2 linked regions of the Homo sapiens genome follow. The protein of the gene in region 2 interacts with the protein of the main gene of each other region in a pairwise test. Each region holds a gene or a part of one and is shown on either strand. Other genes may lie near its edges.

Region 1 (10,370 bases), on a different chromosome or scaffold from region 2:
ATATTTGTGAAGAGCCTGCTATGTGCCAAACACTAGCTACATATTTGTCCTAGCAATAATTCTGAGGTGAAGTATTATCACAGCAAACAAACCCAGGTCTTGTGAAGTTTGAGCCAATGATCTGTCCATTACACTTTATAATATCCTTTCTCCAATGGGTTAATAGCAATAATGAGCATTTATCAAAAATTATGAGCTAGATACCCTACTGTGTGTGCCACATGCTGTATTTAATTTTAATACTTGCAACAAACTTATGATAACTATTCTTATCCATAGTTAAGGAAATAGGGATTTTAAAAGGTTGAATACTTTCCAAAGTTCACACAGCTGTCAAGTGGCATAAACACAGAACGTAAGTGTGACTGTCTTCAGAGCCAGCTTCTTAACCACTACATTATGTTATTAGACACCTATGAATGTGACCTGGGTCCTCATCTAGTAGTTAATCTCAGATTTGGGCTGACTCTCTAGATGTCCCCATCCTCATACCCATGTGCATTTTTCTAAAATTCCTAATGTTTGAAGAGGATTACTTCCCAGCAGAATGGGATTGTCCTTTAGGCAAAGACATCCAAGTAGTCTTATGTTCTTGTTAGGGTCTCCTGATATGAGACAGAACAATAGGAGGAGCCAGAGGAAAGAATCCTACACAAAATAAGTTCTTGATGACTTTAAGATGAGCCCTTTAAAGTGGAGTTTGTCAACGTAAAGGTCTTAATATAATTCATCTCTAAAGTATCAACTTATTTCAAACTACAGAATATCTGGTTAAGATAGGGCTCAGAATTTATTTCAATTTATTAATTGTTTAATAATATTTAATCCAAAATTATAATTTTGTCTCCTCGTTCACTAATCTGAGAATCTATCATTTCCTTAATCCTTGGGAATCTGTAGTCTGAAATTATTTTGATATCTTGTTTTGCCATCTAAGGTTTGCAAAGACTAGCTGGAATTAACCTCTGTCCATTATTAGGACAAGTAAGAGCCAGTTCTTTATTTTTGTATTTTTATAAGGCTTAAATTTGATATAGTGGTCTCCCAGTTTGGAAAAAAAAAATGTGCCATTTAAAATAAAAGCCTGAGAATATTTAAAAGAAGTGGGACATAGATAATGTGTGTAGCCCACTTAGTATTTTAAAAAGTAATAATTGTGGATAGAGTAGAAAAGAGCAAAAGACAACCTTATCTTTGTAAAGTTATTTTTTTTTCTGTTATAGAAGCTGCTGCAGATGTCTTACACAAGAATGGCGAGAGCTGCAGGGAGTTAATCCAAAAGACAGTCAGAAGCAGTGCCCCTTGCTAAATGTGATTGTTATCTGACCTCATAAACAAGAATACACTAACCCTAGATGTCACTGACTTGATTGATTTTCAAACAGGGAAGACTGATGCTCTAATTTTCCTAATTAACTCAGATGATTCTATCAACCTGATGGGCAGAGCTTGCTTACTGAGAAATGATGTGAAAATTAAGATGCACAGACAGTTTTCTAAGAAACCTGATTCAAAGCACTATGCTTCCAATGCTAGGATTTTTACTCAAATGAATTCTAGCCCTGTTCCAGCTCCACCAAAGGAAATGTGTAGATTGAAATGTTTACATTTTGGCTTTCCGCAGACAAAAATGGAGGTATTAATACTACTTTGTTGACAATTTCCACTTAATGATTTGTGTAACTAATAATTATCATGACACGAATGAACATTATTAGGATCTGAGAAGTATAACGTTAACTTTTACTTTCCCATATTCTTTCTGATAGACATGGAGGATTAAACTGCGTTTGAAAAAAAAAAGAAGCAAAATCTGAATAATGAGTATAATCTGTACATTTTTAAACTACTTTATTTTGTCTGTAGGAGTTCTTTCTGCCAGTCTCTCAAATACAGGTTTTGCTCAAAGGAATGCATGCCTTATGCCAACATACCAGTCTTTTGGGGAATTAGGAATGCAAAAAATCTCTTTTTGTACCTTCGCTACCAACACATTTGCTGAGAATTAAAAGGGCCAGGATTTGACATTTTCCAGCTTGTTATCTATTTAATTTTCCATCTGCTTCTTTTGCCACTGCCTTCCAAAGGAACATCTGCTGCATATCTGAGAAAAGGGAAGGAAGATTGGATCTGTGCCACCCGGGTCTGCAGTCTCAAACCTTGAGATCCAGAATAAGGGAAGGGAAGGAGACTAACAAATGGTCCAGAAAATAAAATGAGGACAAACAGTCTGTTAGAACAAAGCTGTATTTTTCTTTATTGCAGAGCCCACATGACTGGGCAAGTCGGGTGGTAATGTCTACAACCAGCAAGGGCTGGATGCAGGGGGAGGCAGGTGGTGACCAGCCAGTGGCAAGAGTACTTCCCAGAGCTTGGACACTCCCTCTGGTGCCTGACTCTCCATGTGGGACCCGGTTTCTCACACATTTCTTAAGCATTTATGGGGCAGCTGCTATGAGGCAATTTTGTTCTGAGTACTCTGGAGGCAGAGATGAATAAGACATAATCCCTGTGCTTAAAGAGCTAGCCTAAAATGGGGAAGATAGACAAATGAACAACAGATCACAACATCACAATGAAAAATTCTACATCCTATGAAAAATTCTATATCCTAGGTAGGGAAGAAATGTCACAAAAATACATAGAAGTGGAAAGATGTATTCCTAATCCTATGAAGAGAAGTGGTGGTTCAAGGAAAGGAACATCTGTACAGAGACAGTGTTACAAGCTGAGTCTGGAAGGATAAGTAGGAATATTAGAAAACAAGGTTTTTTTCCTCCTTATCAATGAGGGGTAGTATAAAACAGCAAACCTTCATAATTGACTCAAAAAATTTAATCCTCCAAACCTTAAACCCACCCACCACCCCTCTCAATTTCAAGGCATCAACATTTATATCAAAGAAATGTATCAACCAACTGGGTTCTGCCACTTTTCAATGTTACCTACAGAGTCACTAGTAAGGTTATCAAACTCTCATCAGAGTGAGATAAGAGGGTTAGCCTAATCATAACTTTCTGATTTGCTATGGTGGAGCAATGATGAGTGGCCAGTTGTCTGACTTTAACTTTTCTTAATTATCTAACTTTAACATCATCAAAATATTTGTATGTAAGATCACAATAGCAAATGCAATAAATTCTTAGAGTTAGGAGTGTATCTGCAAACTATCAGGTATGAATGAACCTCTACTCCACCATAAGGGATACAGAAATAAAAGACATGACCTTTCTGTCAAAGAAGCTGAAACCTAATTGCAATGACTGGAATGTTTAAAATGACTAACTATAATTTTTTAATCTCTTTTCTATAATTCTGACATGGCAAATATTTAACATTTAAATGAGAAAAGAGTAAGGACAATGCTATGCTTTATTGCTCAGTAAATGTTTGCTTTCTTCATTTTTCAATGCAGTCTACAAATAAGTATAAAACTTTTTATCATTTGCTTTATATTAGTCATAGTATATACTGAGATGCGAAAATAGTTGGTATAATCCCTGACTTTGCAATTATATTTTATCTTCATTTTAATAAATTTTATTTTTTAAAATATCCATTGGTGATATGGAAATAACTGTGGGAAAAGACTCAAACACACCTTTTTTTCTATCATCACATTTTCTTTCAACCTCAAAGAAAAGCCTTCCTCAATTTTAAAAACTCATTCAGAGAGAATTTTTTGAAGTTTTTTTTTAACCAATAAATAGCAAGCTATGAGATCAAATTAAATATTTGGAATATTTTTAGCTTGATTTAACTCACCCAAAACTCTTAAGATTATTATAAGCATGTAATGGTTATGTTTAGTTTACGGTTAGTTTCTTAAATGGAGTTTAAAGACATTGCAATTTTTAATTTTTAAATAGGACTATTATATATGGTAGATGTATTGGTCAGGGTTCTCTAGAGGGACAGAAATAATAGGATAGATGTTTATATGAAGGGAGTTTATTAAGGATAATTGATTCACACCACATGATCACACAGTAAAGTCCCACATAGGCCCTCTGCAAGTTGAGGAGCAAGGAAGCCAGTGGTGGATCAGTCTGAGTCCCAAAACCTCAGAAGTAGGGAAGCCAACAGTCCAGCCTTCAGTCTGTGGCCAAAGGCCTGACAGCCCCTGGCAAACTACTGGTGTAAGTCCAAGAGTCCAAAAGCCAAAGAACTTGGAGTCTGATATTTGAGGGCAGAAAGCATCCAGCACAGAAGAAAGATGAAGGCCAGAAGACTCAGCAAGTCTGCTCTTCCATCTTCTCCTGCCTGCTTTATTCTAGCCATTCTGGCAGCTGTAGTAGTTGGTACCCACCCAGATTGAGGGTGGGTCTGCCCCTCCTAGTCCACTGACTCAAATGTTAATCTCCTTTGGCAACACCCTCACAGACACACCCAAGGACGATACTTTGCATCCTTCAATCCAATCAAGTTTACACTCAATATTAACCATCTCAGTAGATAAGAAAATTTCCTGTGTTGTTCACCTGTAATGAATGAGCTTAAAAAGAGGCTGATGATTGAAACTTTTTACTATTTCAAATTGAGAAAGAAATGAGATTTTCTATGCTATTACATTATTCTTCTATTAGAAAAACTTCCAAAGTAAACTATATCAGGAGGCCATAGTCCAATTCTTCCTAAATTAAAGTTGATAGAAGCACAGAATATTTTTGAGTTGGAATGTATGCCAGAGTTACTTAGTGATTTATAAGTGGGAAAACTGAGAACCAGGAAGGTTAGATACCTAAATCTTACTTGTTTGGGTTTATAACTATGCCCTAAGCTTCTTCAGCATATCAGGATCCGTGGTATTGTGTTATCACCCTCAGTCGTTTTGTGTTTTGTCTTTTCAGCCATAAAAAAATTTTGTTTAGGGACAGAGACAAATAAATCTTTTCCTTGGCTGAACTTGAATGTACCATTTCCACTCAAGATTCTAGAAAATCAGATTTCACTGGCTGGTCCCATGATCTGAAAGAGTGGCCCTGTCACCATCTTATTCCACACCAACCTGGTTTTTGTTGTTGGTTCTCCCTGAGACTTTAGGGAGACAAGCACAGCAGGTGGTACCATCCACAGCTCACCCATCTACCTTGAGTAAGCTTGGCAAGTACACTTATTCAGTCTGCAGTGACCTCTGCAGTGACCCTGGGGCTGTTTCAGTGAATGCTGCTTTTGTGGCTCAGGTGTTGTCCTAGAAGTTAATTGTCAATGAGCCTCAGGTAAAGTTACTGAAGGAAAGACATAAGCAGATTTAGTAAACCATTTAAATACTCCAATCCTAACATTTTCTGAATTTTAAATAACTACACATAATTTTCTTTGTCTTCAGCATAATACGGATCAAGCATAATAAATACATCAAGAGTGAATTAAGCCAATTGCTGAAACATGGTTGCATTTTGTTGGTAATAGTGAAAATATATGATGGCGTGGTCAACATTCAAATGAGACATAGAACAAACCCTGAGTTAGTCACATTCTGATCTTCCCCCTCCGCCACCGGATATTTATTTTTTCTTTTCTACAGATGTCTATTTTGCAACTCTGCTGGTTTTGTCCTTTTTCTTAATCTTGAGGCAGGTATATTGGGAGGCAAGATATTCCAGTCATTTCTGCAGCTTTTTTATTCATCTCCTGGTGGGTGGATGAGAGTGATGCTGTAGCCTCCAGGGCTCGACAGATCTTTTCCCTTCTCTCCACCCTCTCTCTCTAGGATCAATCTGGGATTGATGGGTACATGGTAAAAGAAAAAAAAAAAATCCTGGGTATTTTTTTCTACCATACTTCTAATTGCATTTGTTTTGTCACCCTTAGGACTACCAAGAAGCCTCCAATTTGGAACAATTCGTAACTAGATTTTTATTGAAGGAAACCCTGAATCAGCTGCAGTCTCTCCAGAATTCCCTGGAATGTGCCATGGAAACTACTGAGGAGCAAACCCGTCAAGAAAGGCAATTTACATGTTTTCATCTGATGTCTATTTAGTGACTCTATGTTCATGAAAAAACAATTGAGAGGCATTGTACTTACACTAGCAAAAACTAAAAAAGAGAATTGATATATTTAAAAAGAATGACAGTGACCTCCACTGGTTGCTTGCCTTATTATTTGCCTCTAAAAAGACCATTCTACTTTTTCTTTTACTGTCAGTCATTTAGTAAACTATATATATATATATATATATATATATATATGTGTGTGTGTGCGTGTATATATATGTCTGTGTGTATATATATACACACACACACATATATGTGTATGTGTGTATATATATACACACACACATATGTGTGTGTGTGTATATATATACATATATGTGTGTGTGTATATATATATATTTCTTTTTTTTTGAGATGGAGTCTCACTTTGTCACCCAGGCTTGAGTGCAGTGGCACGATCTTGGCTCACTGCAAACTCTGCCTCCCGGGTTCAAGCAATTCTTGTGCCTCAGCCTCCCAAATAGGTGGGATTACAGGCACACACCACCACGTCCAGCTAATTTATTGTATTTTTTAGAAGAGACGGGGTTTCACTATGTTGATCAGGCTGGTCTTGAACTCCTAACCTCAGATGATCCACCCATCTTGGCCTCCCAAAGTGCTGGGATTACAGGTGTAAGCCACTGAGCCCAGCTGAGTCAACAAATTTTAATTGAAAATTTAGTAGATGGAGAAGACTTTAAAGTATTATGAATAATATAAAGATACATTTAACATAATGTCAATCCTTAAGGAAGCCTAAGTCTATCATATAAATAAGACATGAACACAAAAACTATACTGCAAAGAACAAAGTGATAATAAATACCGTAGAGAAGAGGAAATACATTGCCAATTGTTTTCAGAATATTAAAAGATTAAATATGGATAGAGGGATGGAAGGATGAGAAAGTCAATTTCATGGAGTTTCTCTATTTGAGCTTGTCTTGCAAAATCAAGAGATCAGTGAAAAAGCCTGGTGGGAAGACAAGACTTGAACTGGACCTGTAGGATGAATTTGAATGGCAGAATGAGAGTCTCTCTAGAGGGATCCGTCTCACCCACCTCCTGTTACCCACCTCTCATGTGGCTCACTTCTCTTTGGTTGTCTGGTCACTGATTGGACAGTAATTTCTCTGGGAAGCCTTCACTGCTCATTCATACCTCCCACTTCACTACCGTGTATTCCTATAGTGCCCCCTATTTATATCTACTTATCTCAACCCCTTCCTTGTTAATTTGGTGTAATTTTGAAAATGTGGAAATGATGGGAAAGACCCTTACAGACTACATGAACCTGGATATACTTGGGAGACCTGATAATTCAGTAAGCCTAATTATTTCAGGAAATGGAGAAAAGTGAATGATGGAAATTATTTCAAAATTCAATGCCACCAATAGGTATCACTGAGAAAATAAGTAGTCATATTGCAATAGCTATATAAATAAAGGCACTAATGCTTAAGAGACACCTATACTAAAAATGTGTAGGGCACACATCAAGGTGATCCCAGCCAACAGTTGATATTTTTCTGAGTTGTCATTGCTTATACTTTGCAAGCTAGAGAAGCTTGCAAAACTCTTGCTCCTGGGGCATATTTTGGCAGATGTGTTACTTTAAACTTATAGATGTGCTTTATCTAACTTTTACATCTTAAATTAGAGAGAAGGAAACAGTAAGTTTTCTGAACAGGCTGATAATAGACTACCCTGCAGGACCAATTTTCCTGAACAAATTAACTGATACATAATTATTAGGACATCTCCAAAATAGTGGAATTTTCAACCATGTGTTTACAATGTCAAAATGAGTGAGCACCACCAACTTCTAACAAAAAATCCTGTAATTCCAGAATCTAATGAGCCCATGCAGCTGACTGTCACAGGGAAGTACTCTTTAGCAGATCTGTGAAGCATCCTCTACATCATAAACTTCCTGTTTTCACTGCGTTGGGTGATTCTATACCAAATGGCAAAGTATAACAATTCACTTTAGAAAAGCAAAACCCACCTCCTCAGCTTTGAGCAGAGGATAACTGAATGTCTTGAAGCACAGTGAAATGGATTTCATGTTCCTAATGAGAAAAATGAGGCCTCCTGTGTTGTTTCTTTTGTTTGGACTTTCTGGAAATAAAATGGGAACTCCCTTTTTAGAATCAGTCATCTGCCACCTGAGAAGAGGCTTGAAAAAGTGCTCTACTCCCCTTCTTCACCTGCGCTTTTGTTTTTTTCTACAGTCATCCCCTGAAAACCTGTGCTCTGCATTTACCACCATGCTGTGAATGTTTAATGAACAACTGTTTTCTGTGTTAGGCCACAGGCTAGCCTTGAACTCTTGTGACTGCTGCCAGCAGCTGCCTAGCAGCTGTGCTTAATGAGAAGGAGCATGACAATATAGACTTTAAGGAAAGTAGAAGGCACTAGAGGATTAACGAACCTTTTACTTCTGGATTTCTCACTCAAAAACAGCTTCAAATAATGGGAAATGTTACATGTCTGACTGCAGTTTAAGGGGTGCTGTTGTATGGCATTTGACTAAGACACCCAGGAATGACAAAATCCCACCCCAAATCTGTGATATTCCCCCTGAGAGGTTTATAAAGAAATGCATAAACAAGCAAACAGAAAATAAGGTACCACTATGGATTTATGCCCGTAATATCTGATGAACCAGACTGAAGCACGTGAATTATGCCCAAACCTAAAGGGACTGTGTCTCCTCTCCCAAGGCTATATCTTCCTATCAGCTGGCCACCAAAAGTGAGGAGAGCCCTGGGACCTTCATCAGTGAGGAAAAGATAGAGAGAGAAAAACTATACCTTTCCTATGATGTCAATCAAGAGACCAGTGAAAACGCCTGATGGGAAGACAAGACTTGAAGTGGAACTTTAGGATGAATTTTAATGGCAGAATGAGATTCTCTCTAGAGGGATCCGTCTCACCCATCTCATGTTACCCATCTCTCATCTGGCTCACTTCTCCTCGTCTGTCTTGTCACTGATTGGACAGTACTTTCTCTGGGAAGCCTTCACTGCTCATTTATACTTCCCACCTCATTACCATGTATTCCCATAGTGCCCTCTATTTATATCTACTTATCTCAGCCCCTTCCTTGTTTATCTCCCCCATTAGACATTGAGTTTTTAGATGGCAGAGACTTTGCATAAGTCCCCTCTACTTACTACAACTGCATGGTAAACATATGAAAGTGAATGAATGAAAGGAATTCTAGGTGAAAGGAGTGCTACACAGGAGCAGTTGGTGAGGACCCAGAACACTGAGGAGACCAATCTAACAGTCATCTGGGGTTCAGAAAGATCTTAAAAGCTAGAAAGATGCAAACAAAAATTCACCAGTTTTTTGTTTGTTTGTTTGTTTTGAGACAAAGTCTCACTCTGTAGCCCAGGATGGAGTGCAGTGATGCAATCTCAGCTCACTGCAACTTCCGCTTCCCGGGTTCAAGCAATTCTCCTGTCTTAGCCTCCCGAGTAACTGGGACTACAGTCATCTGCCACCATGCCCAGCTAATTTTTGTATTTTTAGTAGAGACAGGGTTTCACCATATTAGCCAGGCTGGACGCGAACTCCTGACCTCAGGTGATCTACCCACCTCAGCCTCCAACGTGTGGGATTACAGGCTTGAACCACCACTCCCAGCCAATTCATCAGTTTTTTTATGTTGTAAAGGAAGATTTTGTGATGCCCTTCACAGTCAAGAGTTGCAACCTGCAGGTCAGGCATGGTGGCTCACACCTGTGATTCCTGCACTTTGGGAGGCCAAGGCAGGTGGATCACCTGAGGTCAGGAGTTCGAGACCAGCCTGGCCAACATGATGAAATCCTGTCTCTACTCAAAATACAAAGAAATTAGCCCGGCATGGTGGTGGCAGATACCTGCAATCCCAGCTACTCTGGAGGCTGAAGCAGAAGAATCACTTGAACCCAGGAGGCGGAGGTTGCAGTAAGCAGAGATCGCGCCACTACACTCCATCCTGGGCAACAAAAGCGAAACTCCATCTCAAAAAAAAAACAAAAAAACAAGAGTTACAACCTGCAGGTATCATTAAAATCTCTAGGATTGTGATAATTTGCTTTCCCTTCAGCATCAACATTACTTTGGGATTTAATATTTGTGAAACCTAGGGATACAAAGACTCCTTGGAATATAGCAAATTTAGGGAAGTCATCTATTCCATCTATCAGCCCCGGGGAGAATCACACAGTATCATTCATCCTGCAGTAATGAGGTAGACATGCCATGTTGGGCAAAATGTCTGTGTCTATTCATGTAAAAATGGATATTTGAGAGAGAAAGGATGTGTACAGCTGGAATGCCACAGAGGTGGAATTTTCAGATGGCATGCTACAACACTCTTTGTATCTGCCCTGGCAA
Region 2 (10,370 bases):
TAAGGGTGTGGAGACTCCCAGTTTCTCTATTTTGACTTCTGGGTCATCCTCGAGTGTGAAGGACCAGGATCCATCCTCCACCCAGAAAAGCCTTACTTCAGGCTTAACTAGAAAGTACCCTAAAATCCCCCGCACAGATCTCTTCTCACACCTACCCATGCTTGTTTTGTTTAAGGAGGAATTGCTGAGGCAAAGTATTTCAGTATGTCCAAGGACCCAGAAGTATATTTTCTCCTATCTATAGCTAATCCTTCATAAGCTGTTGTGAGTCTCTATTTACCCACATTAATACCTTATCTAATACCTGCTAGATGCAATGCACCACAAAGCCTGGATTGACCCAACAGTGAGGAGAAGTGGGAGTTGGTGATTTTCTGGAGAATTTAGACTTCGATTTCAAAGAATTCCAGCTTCCTTGTATCTCCCAGCCCCTAACCCCAAATTTGATACAATTGGCTATGTTTTGGTAAAGTTTTGTCAAAACCATCATTGGCTAGTAATGAGCTCTTAATCAGTCAGGTGGTGATAAAGGAGAATCTAGCTTTGCTACTTTGACTTTTCTGTCAGCCTGGGGATTAGTGGGGCTCATCCCTTTTTCCTTATAGATGTTTAGGACAGTGAGCCCTAACCTGAATTGACTGAATATACCAAGAACAGTGAAATGTAGGAATTGTTCCAAAGAACAAATCTCAGTTAATTTCTTAATGGGAGAAGAAATAAAAGGTAGATGACATGAGAAGGACACGTCCTTGCCAAGAGCCCTATGGCGACAGCCACCCGACAGCACAACTATTCGATTAAAGAGGGTCTTATTTGTTGTCTAGGCAGGGGGCCAGATTACTGGAAGTACTAGCAGAAAATCACATTTAATACTACATATAATCATTAAATTATAATGGTATAACAGAAAGGTATGGGCTTTGGAATCACACAATTCTCCTTGGTAATCACCATAGGCCACTTAGCCTTTCTGAGGCTCTATTTACCTGTAAAATGGAAATAATAAGTAGGTGAAGCTTCCAGGATTGTGTGAGAATTTAATAAATAGATACATCATCTAGCAGGGGGCTGGTACATTGTATGCATCAATAAATGTTAATTATTCTCTTCCCCATCCTGTCAACTATAGTACAGTAAAGTTAGAGTTAAGATCCAATATATGTGAATGCATAATTAAGAGAGAAACTCCAGTGTGCATAAGATAACTCAAACCAAAGGATATGTAAGTGATTCTCTCAGGTTTTCACAAGAATCCTCCCTTCTTTTCATAGCCACATTTTAATAATTAAAATTCATGGATTATGTACTCATTAACTACTGAGCACACATTCCATGACAAGTTCTATAATAAATGGTGGGGCAGGGGGCAGTTGAGGCAGAAGACAGTAGAGATATAAAGATTTTAATACCAAAGACAGGGTCTCTTTGAGTTCAAAAAACAAGAAAAGACATGTAAACAACTTATCACCGCTTGTATGTGATAAGGTGGTGGGCACAATGAGTCATGTAGAGGGAACCAAGCTCTGTCAAATTAGCCAAACTTACAAGCTTTCCACTGCTTGTTTTTTGCTTTTGAGATAGAGTCTTGGTCTATTACCCAGGCTGGAGTGCAATGGTGCATTCTTAGCTCACTGCAGCCTCCACCTCCAGGGTTCAAGCAATTCTCTTATGCCTCAGCCTCCTGAGTAGCTGGGATTACAGGAGTGCACCACCATGCCCAGCTAATTTTTGTATTTTTAGTAGAGATGGGGTTTCTCCATGTTGGCCAGACTGGTCTTGAACTCCTGGCCTCAAGTGATCTACCCACCTCGGCCTCCCAAAGTTCTGGGATTACAGGAGTGAGCCACTGCACCTGGCCCCATTGCTTTTTAATATCCATTTCGATTCAGTCTTATCTGTATTTGAACTCTAGCTCTAATTAGTGGCATGATCTTGGGCAAGTCACTTTACCTCTCAAGGCATTTCCCCACCTGCAGAAGGGGAATAACTATCTCTCCTTGTATTTTAAAAGATGATACATACAAAAGGTTCTAACACAGTCAACCATTACAGTTACCTAGTTCATGGTCACTTTTCAAAGGAAACAAAGTTGAAAGTTGAAGTGGAGGCCATTGATGAAAGGGTAGGGCCATTTTATTTCTTAGTATAGAATCTAGCAAAAAAATTAAGGGAGGAAGTTGTAGACTAATGACTGTAATGAACTTAAGGGGCTGTTTCTTGATTTTAATTATCCATGCTATTGCTACCCCCATCACCACAGACAATCAAGAAGCATGAGTCAGCACTGGCATAGCAACATGGCCTAGCAACCTAGTAATGTAGGTTAATGTTTTTCTTTCTCATTAAATGAATAAATGAAGCAACTTCTTGTTTTTTCTTTTCTTCATTTTGGTTTCAGTGACAAAATGTTCCCTGCCTTTGGGTTTGGCGCCAGGATACCTCCAGAGTACACGGTGAGTGAGTGGAGATGTGATCTTCTTCCACTTCACTGTGGTCAAAGGATAACTTGGCTCTTCTTTGCAGCAGTCTCACACTCCTGACTCTGACCTAACTGTGTCAGTAGGGCCTACAGAGTCAGAAATTGTCTTCAGAATCAGTGAGATTAACTCGCCAGGGCCCGTCTCTTGATGAAACCCTATCTCCTGGTATTTTGGATGGGTCTTCTCAGAGGTCCAGATGAAGAGTTTCATTGTTTAGTTTCTTATAAATGTGGTCAGAGTCTGAGAAAACACTCAAGAAGTTGATCTCCAGGGGCTCAGAACCTATTCACTCGTATATCCCCTAGGAAATAGAATTCTATTGGCAATGCCAACTGGGAAAGTCCGTGACAATGGAGTCTACAGACTTTCTTATCCCAAGTCTCCGAGTCCAAGTCTTGTATGGGAGACACAGAGAAGTTTTGAAGAAAGAACTATTATGACTTAGAGAATTGGGAAGCTGAAATGTTCTTCTGAAGACGTTGGAATCCTATTTGGTTTTGATAATGATTTCTCATGACAGAAAAAAGGCAAAGATTGTGTGTAGATAAATTTGCACTGTAATGAGGCTGAGACACTACTGTGATATTCTAGATGCTCCTGTAGAACATTCTCCACAGAGAACTCGTGCCCACTAGGTGGACAGGGCCTTGGAGAGACAGCAGGGTACCTCTCCCAGCCTCCACCTTACCAGTGCCTCTGAGGTCTGAGCTAAGTACAAACAACACTGCCCAATCCTCAATTTCTCTTTTACTGGCTGTGTCTGAGCCACAGGTGAGGAGGTAGATGCTGACATTTGCTCCCTCACTAGAGCCATCATATAAAGGGCTTTCCCCTTAGGTATCCTTTTTGAAAGAGGAAATCAATATCCCTGTTGCTCCTAGAGTGAATAGTGGATGGAATCGCTTGTCTCCCTGACCTGTTCTCCTTCTTTCTTGCCTTGTATTCCACACTGGCCTTTCTGCTGGGCATAGCTACATAATTCTAGAAGCATTTATTAGAAATACAGCTTGTGGAGAGAAAGAATATAGAACAAGAGTTATCAACTGGTGGCCTATAGACATTATTCAGGCCACAAATATGTTATATTTGACACACTTTTAAAAAACGAATTCAGCAATTGCATATATAAAATGTCAGATTTCTGGTTTCTCTTGAAAACCTGAAAGGCCTGGCAACACTAAGATTAAAAGATGACCGATACAAGAATAAGCTGGAGCTGAGGAGATATAGGCCCCTTCAAATCGGGAATGTAAACAGGTGAATGCCCACTTTCTTCATAGAGCTGCTGAATAGCTCAATAGCCATCAGCCCAACTACCCAGGGATTCTTGAGTTTTCACCACATCCCCACCAGGTGGTCTTCCAGCCTCAGGTTGGCCCAACAGGGCTGAGGACAGAGCTATGCACCATACCTTTTTCTCACTAATGACATCTTTTTGGTTCCCTTCCTGGAGTAACTAATCTTTCTTGCTGTTTTCTGAAGTCCTCTTGTTCACTTGATCCCCTAACTCCATCCTTCCTGTCAGCAAAATCCCCTGGTTATTCTTGTTTCAATAGGCATCTCTCACATTTCCCCATTTCGGGTCCCCTAATTTCTCCCATTCCTCAGACAAGCACTGATGATTTGAGCAGCTCAGGTGCCCCCAGGAGAGTTTACAAGGTTGCCACAATTTACTTCTTAGGACAAAATCTGAAAGTATGCATTGAAACTGAAACACAAGCACCTCTCTTTCTTAGTTAGCACTTTCTCAGAAACAGATCTTGAGACAAGGGTTTGGATGCAAATAGTTTATTTAAAAGGTGAGGGAAACCACAATAGAGGTTGGGAAGTGGAAGTCAGCACAGAGTATATTATCAAGTCAGTTACCGCTGTTGGCAACTGGTGCTTAACTCTGCTGAAGAACCCTAGGAGACAATATACAGCACACATGGACCCCAAGGGATAAGGGAGCTGGGATATGTATACATCACCTCCTGTTAATTACTGATTACTCCCAAGGGTCACTTTTAGCCTGTCACTTGGGCAAGCAAGGCAGGCCCTGGAGGCCAAGAAAAAACTTAAGGTAAACAAAGCAAATAAGATGACTGAAGTCAGCTGGCTTACCTGGAAGTGCTAAGAGCAAGGGACTAGGATAAGCACTGAGAGCATCACCGATCACCTCCCACTAAGAAAACAGGTGTCTTTTAACACAGTGACCTAATTTATGGATACCCAAAAGAGTCAGAGCTTGGAAATATCCTTTGAAATGAAATTCTCCATAAAATACCAAATGATTCAATAAAAATGTCCAGATGCCAGAACATCTATCTTGTTTTATCAGGTTTTCGGAAAGAAAAAAGTAAACAATATGTTATTTGACCTTGTGCATAGGTTCTGCCAGGTAGAGGAATTTGTGTTGAAATATTACAAAGTATATTACTTTACTATGTTTCCAAAAGTAGAGTGCAGTCTGTTTTACCTGTAGGTATGTGAAAATCCTCCTGCCCTGTAGTTCTGCATATCATGTTAATGATTCTTAAGTGTCAACTGCTTAGCTGAAGCTTTTATAACCATCGCTATCTTCAGCAGACAGCTTGGGTTATTGAGTTTTTTTGTTTTTATTTTTGTTTTAATCACTGGGTCCAAATAGAGCTCAGCCAAATCTAAGCCTCCAGTCTGTGGCCAGTTCTAACTAGCAGCTATTCAAAGTTATCTTTCTGAAATCTTTTCTTGGATTTTTTTATAAGCCTTATTCTCCCCTCCTGACAGCATTTATCTGATTCTAGAAAATATTCCTGTCACCTCAACTCCACAGGGAGCTTAGAATTCACCCTCCATCTCATATTGATTGTGTAAAGGCTTGAAATGGTTCCTGCTGCTTAACACATAATGAATATAATGGGCATTTGTTTGCAAACTCTAAACCCCAGTGCCTTCTTACTGGATTAAAGTTGTAATTCTTCTTTCTTCCTGTTTTTTAAATTTTAATCGGTGTCTAGGTCTCTCATGACTTTGCAATCAACTTTAATGAAGACAACCCAGAATGTGCAGGTAAAGCACAACGTGAAAGAAAGCCAGTGTCACAGTCCTTCCCTTTGCAGCTTTCCCATTTTAGTTCATCTCTGCTGGTGTAGCATATTAGTTACGATTGTCCACAGAATCTCTGCTTTCTGTATCAACATAAACCATGCTACTCCACAGGCAAGAGAAAGCCATGATAACAGAGCAGGAAAATAAGAACTGGAAAAGACAGAATGCAGAAGAGGTGGTCTTGAGTGTATGGCAATAATGTTGATCCCAGTCTGGGATTCCTTGGGCCATAATAATAATAATAATAATAAATGAAACTTCACCTGGTAGGCAGTGATACAATATCCCTCTTTCTGTTTTCCAAATTTTCATCAAGTGTTTTTTTTTTTTTTTTTTCACAACTTCATCTCTGTGCCGATATAAGGAGAGGGGGGAACATGGAAATCATTTCCCACTTTCGGCATATCGGCCAAGGACATGGCCTCAGCGAGTTTGAACAAGCAGCATCATGGCTTTGTGCCAGAGAAAGCCTGCTCAAAGGTTCTGGTTCATGTTCCATTGTTTCCAGCCAGAATTCTCTGACATGATTTCACAAAATAATGATATTGAAACTATGATAATAATTATTATAATAAATTTTGTTCTAGAATGATTTTTTCTGTTTTCTAACAGAGCCAAGTACCTATGTTGCTATGAAGATCATAAGACATTTTTGCATTAGAAATGTCCATATCTCTCTCTTCTTGTCAAGGAGGAAGGAGGCTAAATCAGGATTAATTCAGATCCAGTAGAGTGTGTAAGGCATCTAGCAGTTAATGGCCAAGAATATGATATCAATACCATTGAGTCTGAACACAGTAACCTCCAAGACCCAATCTCCATTCTGCCATTTTTTCCACTAATGTATTCTTCATCCTCAGTTTATTATGGATTAGACTTTCCTCATCCCCAACCACCCCCATTCTGCAACTGTAAGAGTGGTTTCCCCCACAGCAGAATGAAATATAAACCCTGGTATTCACCTGTTTTATACTCTTAGAATTCATCTGCCTGATACTTTTCAAGAGGAAATCAAACTTGCTTATCTTAGGCAAAAGCTCAAGAACCAAAAAAACATAAGGAGCTTCTATTCAGCATCACTTAACTTCAGAACCAGACTGCAAAATGACTTGGCATCTGTCTTTAGAATGATAGGCTTTGGGGCAGGGCCAAGTGGGTGCAGGATTGCCAATGAGGTTGGGAGCATGTATGTAAGGGCAGAACAGAACAGAACTTGCTCATCTAAAATACCCAAGAGCTATTTTGCAGTGCATGGTGGTTATGGAGAATAATCTCAGGAGGGAATTGTGTGGATCCCTCTGGCCAAAAACAGGACTAATGTGCTATTTCAGAATAGAAAGGGATAGAAGGATAAGCTGAATAGGGGAAGGCAAGCAATAACACAGGCACAGACAACAAGAGAAGCCATTTGAATAAAAATCATTTGTAATGAGATTATTGCTGTGGGATCAGAATGATAACATGAAATGTACAGTCAAGATGTATCAAGTACTAGGAGAAGCTGTATAGATAGGACTGCCTCTCCTGGCAGAGTCCCATCCTTTTCTATTTCCTGGGCTCATATGGCCTCAGGATGGAAGCCCCCTTTTAAATGAGGGGTTGTCCGTGATGATAACCATCACTTATCTGTACTCAGTGCCCAGGAGATGAGTATATCAGCCACTTTGCTCATTCATCACACACTTGGTGAGCATTACATTTGCTCGATACTGCCTCAAGCTCTTTGGGGAAATACAAAAAATAAGTAAGTCATGATTCCTGCCCGCAGAGTATAACATCTGGAGAGATGGTCATGGGAACTCCTGACTCTTATAGAGGGCACGGGTAGTATCTACTAGAGTCAACAAGATCGTGTGGAAACAAGTGCAACATTGAAGCTAGCTTGCTAGTGGCTAAGAACACAGTGCTTAGAGCCAGGCAGACCCAAGTTTAAATCCTGAGTCTTGAACACACTTGCTATGTGACCCAGGGCAGATCATTGAACATCTCTAAGCCTCTGTTTCTTCACCTATAAAATGGGTATAACATCTATTTCATTATGCTATGAGGAGCGAATGAAATCTTATATATAAAGTAGGATATTAGGGAAAATTTTGTGGAAATCGTTGCTTTTGACTTTAGCTTTTAAAGAGGAGAATGATTTCAGTGGGGAAGGAGACAGCAACACTAGCAATGTGGTATTCCTTTTTATCTTAAGAACATAAACATGATGTTGATAAGGACTATTTGGGATATTTAATGCTTTACTTTTGTGTGTGTTTGGCTATAAATATATTTGGAGTGACTCTGGAGCTGTTGATCTTTGCCAATTTCACCTCAGGAATTCAAGGAGTTGTGGAAGCCTATCAGAGCTGTCTTCCTAAGCTCCAACTCTACGGTCCCACCAACATTGCCCCCATCATCCAGAAGGTTGCCAAGTCAGCGTCAGAGGAAACTAACACCAAGGAGGCATCGGTAAGGAGGGGGCTATTTGCCTCCTAAGGGGAGCTTACTCTTCCTCACCTGGATATTGGCCGTAAGACCCATCTCACTCTAACAATAAATTCCAACACTTCTCCCTGTGTGAATTTGGACAAATGACTTAACCTCCTCCTATCCTCAGTCTTGACATCTGAAACATGGGGATAATCAAACCCATCTTTGCTGGGTTGTGAGGCTAAGAGATGACACATGTCAAATGTCTACCACATTGTCTGAACACAGGAGAAACTCAACAATGGAAGCTACTATATTCACTAAAGTATGTCATATCCACCTCCTGTCCTTGAAAAGAAAAAAGAAAGGTTTAAAAATAAGCTTGCTTTTTAAGGTACCCATACTACAGATGGAAGCAAAGCACCATGGAAGTAAAACAATGGATGATTCTGCCTCCTGGTGGTAAAGCGCAGCAGCACAAAACATCACAGCAAAAATTGGTTTCATATTCTATTGCTTTTCTTAAGAAAAATGCAAACCAAGACCAGAGTTTGAGTTTTGCCCCTAATATTTTAGAAGTAAATATATTACCACAATAACTTCTGTATTTATTTTAATAACATTAATACATGTCTTTTTAGCTTTATGATTTTTTCCAGATTTAGTGGAATATTACCAATGTCTGAAGTTTGCTCTGTAATTTTATCCTGGGTACTGAGTTTTTATTTAAAAAAATACTACTCCCTTATCTTCTTACATCAATTCATCTAACCTTCTTGCACTGTCTTCATGTTCTCAGCCTTCCTTCATGTTAGAATGGATGGAGGACCATGCTCCTACCTCATGTCAACATCTTCTTTTGTGTACTTGAGCACATCTCTGAATTATCCAGGAACTTTGACTCTGCAGTTATATTCTCGCTCTTTCTCCTATCATCTATTGTTTTCTTTTCTACTTCCCTTTGTACTGAAGACTCATTCCCATTAACAAGTACTCATTCAATAATATCTCCTGCTTTAAGTTAATATCTCCCCCTTGACTCTGCTTTGCCCTTTAGCTACTGTCCTTAACTTTTTCCCACTTATAATCTGCACTCCATGCAGAAACCAGATTGATCTTTTAAAAATATAATTAGTATTGCAGCATTCCTTTGTTCTAAATTCTCTAATACTTCTCATCATACTTGGAGTAAAATCTAAATTCCCTGATATGGCTTAGAAGACATTATAGGATCTAATCTCTGCCTACCTCTCTGATCTTAATTCTTATCATTTTCTCTTTCGCTCCCTATATTTCAGCCACACTGACCTTCTTGCTGTTCCACAAACACACCAAATATATTCCCACCTTGAGGCCTTTTCACTTACTGTTCCCCTGCCAGGGTTTCTCTCACCCAAACCTCCATATGATCCATTCTCTGACTGTGTTAACATCTCTTCTCAACTCTCAACCCCTCTGAAAGTTCCCCCTGGCTACCTTATCTAAAATAGCCAACCCACCCACCCGCACCATGTCTCAGCTTTACTTTTCTTCTTAGTACCCATCATCATCTGAAATATTTTAGGTGCATCTACTAACCTGTATATTTTATGTCTCTCTACTTTCATATGGAAGCTCTACAATAAGACTTGTTCACTAGTATATCCCTAGTACACAAAACAATGCCTGCACACAGTACATGCTTAATAAATACTACTTAAAGAACGCATATAAAGCCACTCTACTTTTCATATATATATATAATGAAAAGTACTTTACATTTTCTTTTGTAAAACTGGTGTGTATCTTAAATATTGCACATCTTGTACGCCAGAAAATACAGTGTTCCTGTTTTCATTATAATTTGAAGTCTCTCCTACTTAAAAAGATCCAAATTCCCAAGGTCCCTAGAGAGAACAACAGTCACTGCATGTCTTTGGTTCAGTCCACTGGCCCTTCCATACATCTCATTATCATCTTCAGCTACTCCGGGCTTGGGTCATTGAGTGACATGAGCAATTCCTACAAGGGAATAGGAAGTTTGAAGCAAAATTTTGTTTTAGACTCATAATTTTTCCATGTCCTTTTATTAACATAGTTGACCACAGTTTCAATCTGCTACACAACATCCATCAGGTGACCCATAGCTATCCATAAGAAACAAATGGGTCTGATCTGTGGGGCATGTTCTCTCATCTCCTCTGTTCATTACATCATGTTCTTGAAATCACTAACCGGTGGTTTGACTGTGAAAAGGACTGGAGACCCTGGGGAGCTAAGTGTGTGTTACTTCAAATAATTACTTTAGAATAGTGAATATATAAAACTGTGGATATATTAGCCTTTATGCTGGGCAGAGACACTCTGTAAGCTGAGATCTTGTCCAGCAGTAATGCTGAGGATTTAATCCAAGCCAAGTCTTTTCCA

Evidence for each region.
Region 1: the proteins of CPNE4 (region 2) and NECAB1 interact in binary tests that used the Homo sapiens proteins (3 or more experiments, as listed by UniProt).

The regions. Positions count from the first base shown.
Region 1 is NC_000008.11:90,911,678-90,922,047, forward strand, and holds part of NECAB1 (N-terminal EF-hand calcium-binding protein 1), read left to right. Parts: intron 1-5,814; coding exon 5,815-5,951; intron 5,952-10,370.
Region 2 is NC_000003.12:131,547,580-131,557,949, reverse strand, and holds part of CPNE4 (copine-4), read left to right. Parts: intron 1-2,398; coding exon 2,399-2,453; intron 2,454-5,458; coding exon 5,459-5,510; intron 5,511-7,869; coding exon 7,870-8,003; intron 8,004-10,370.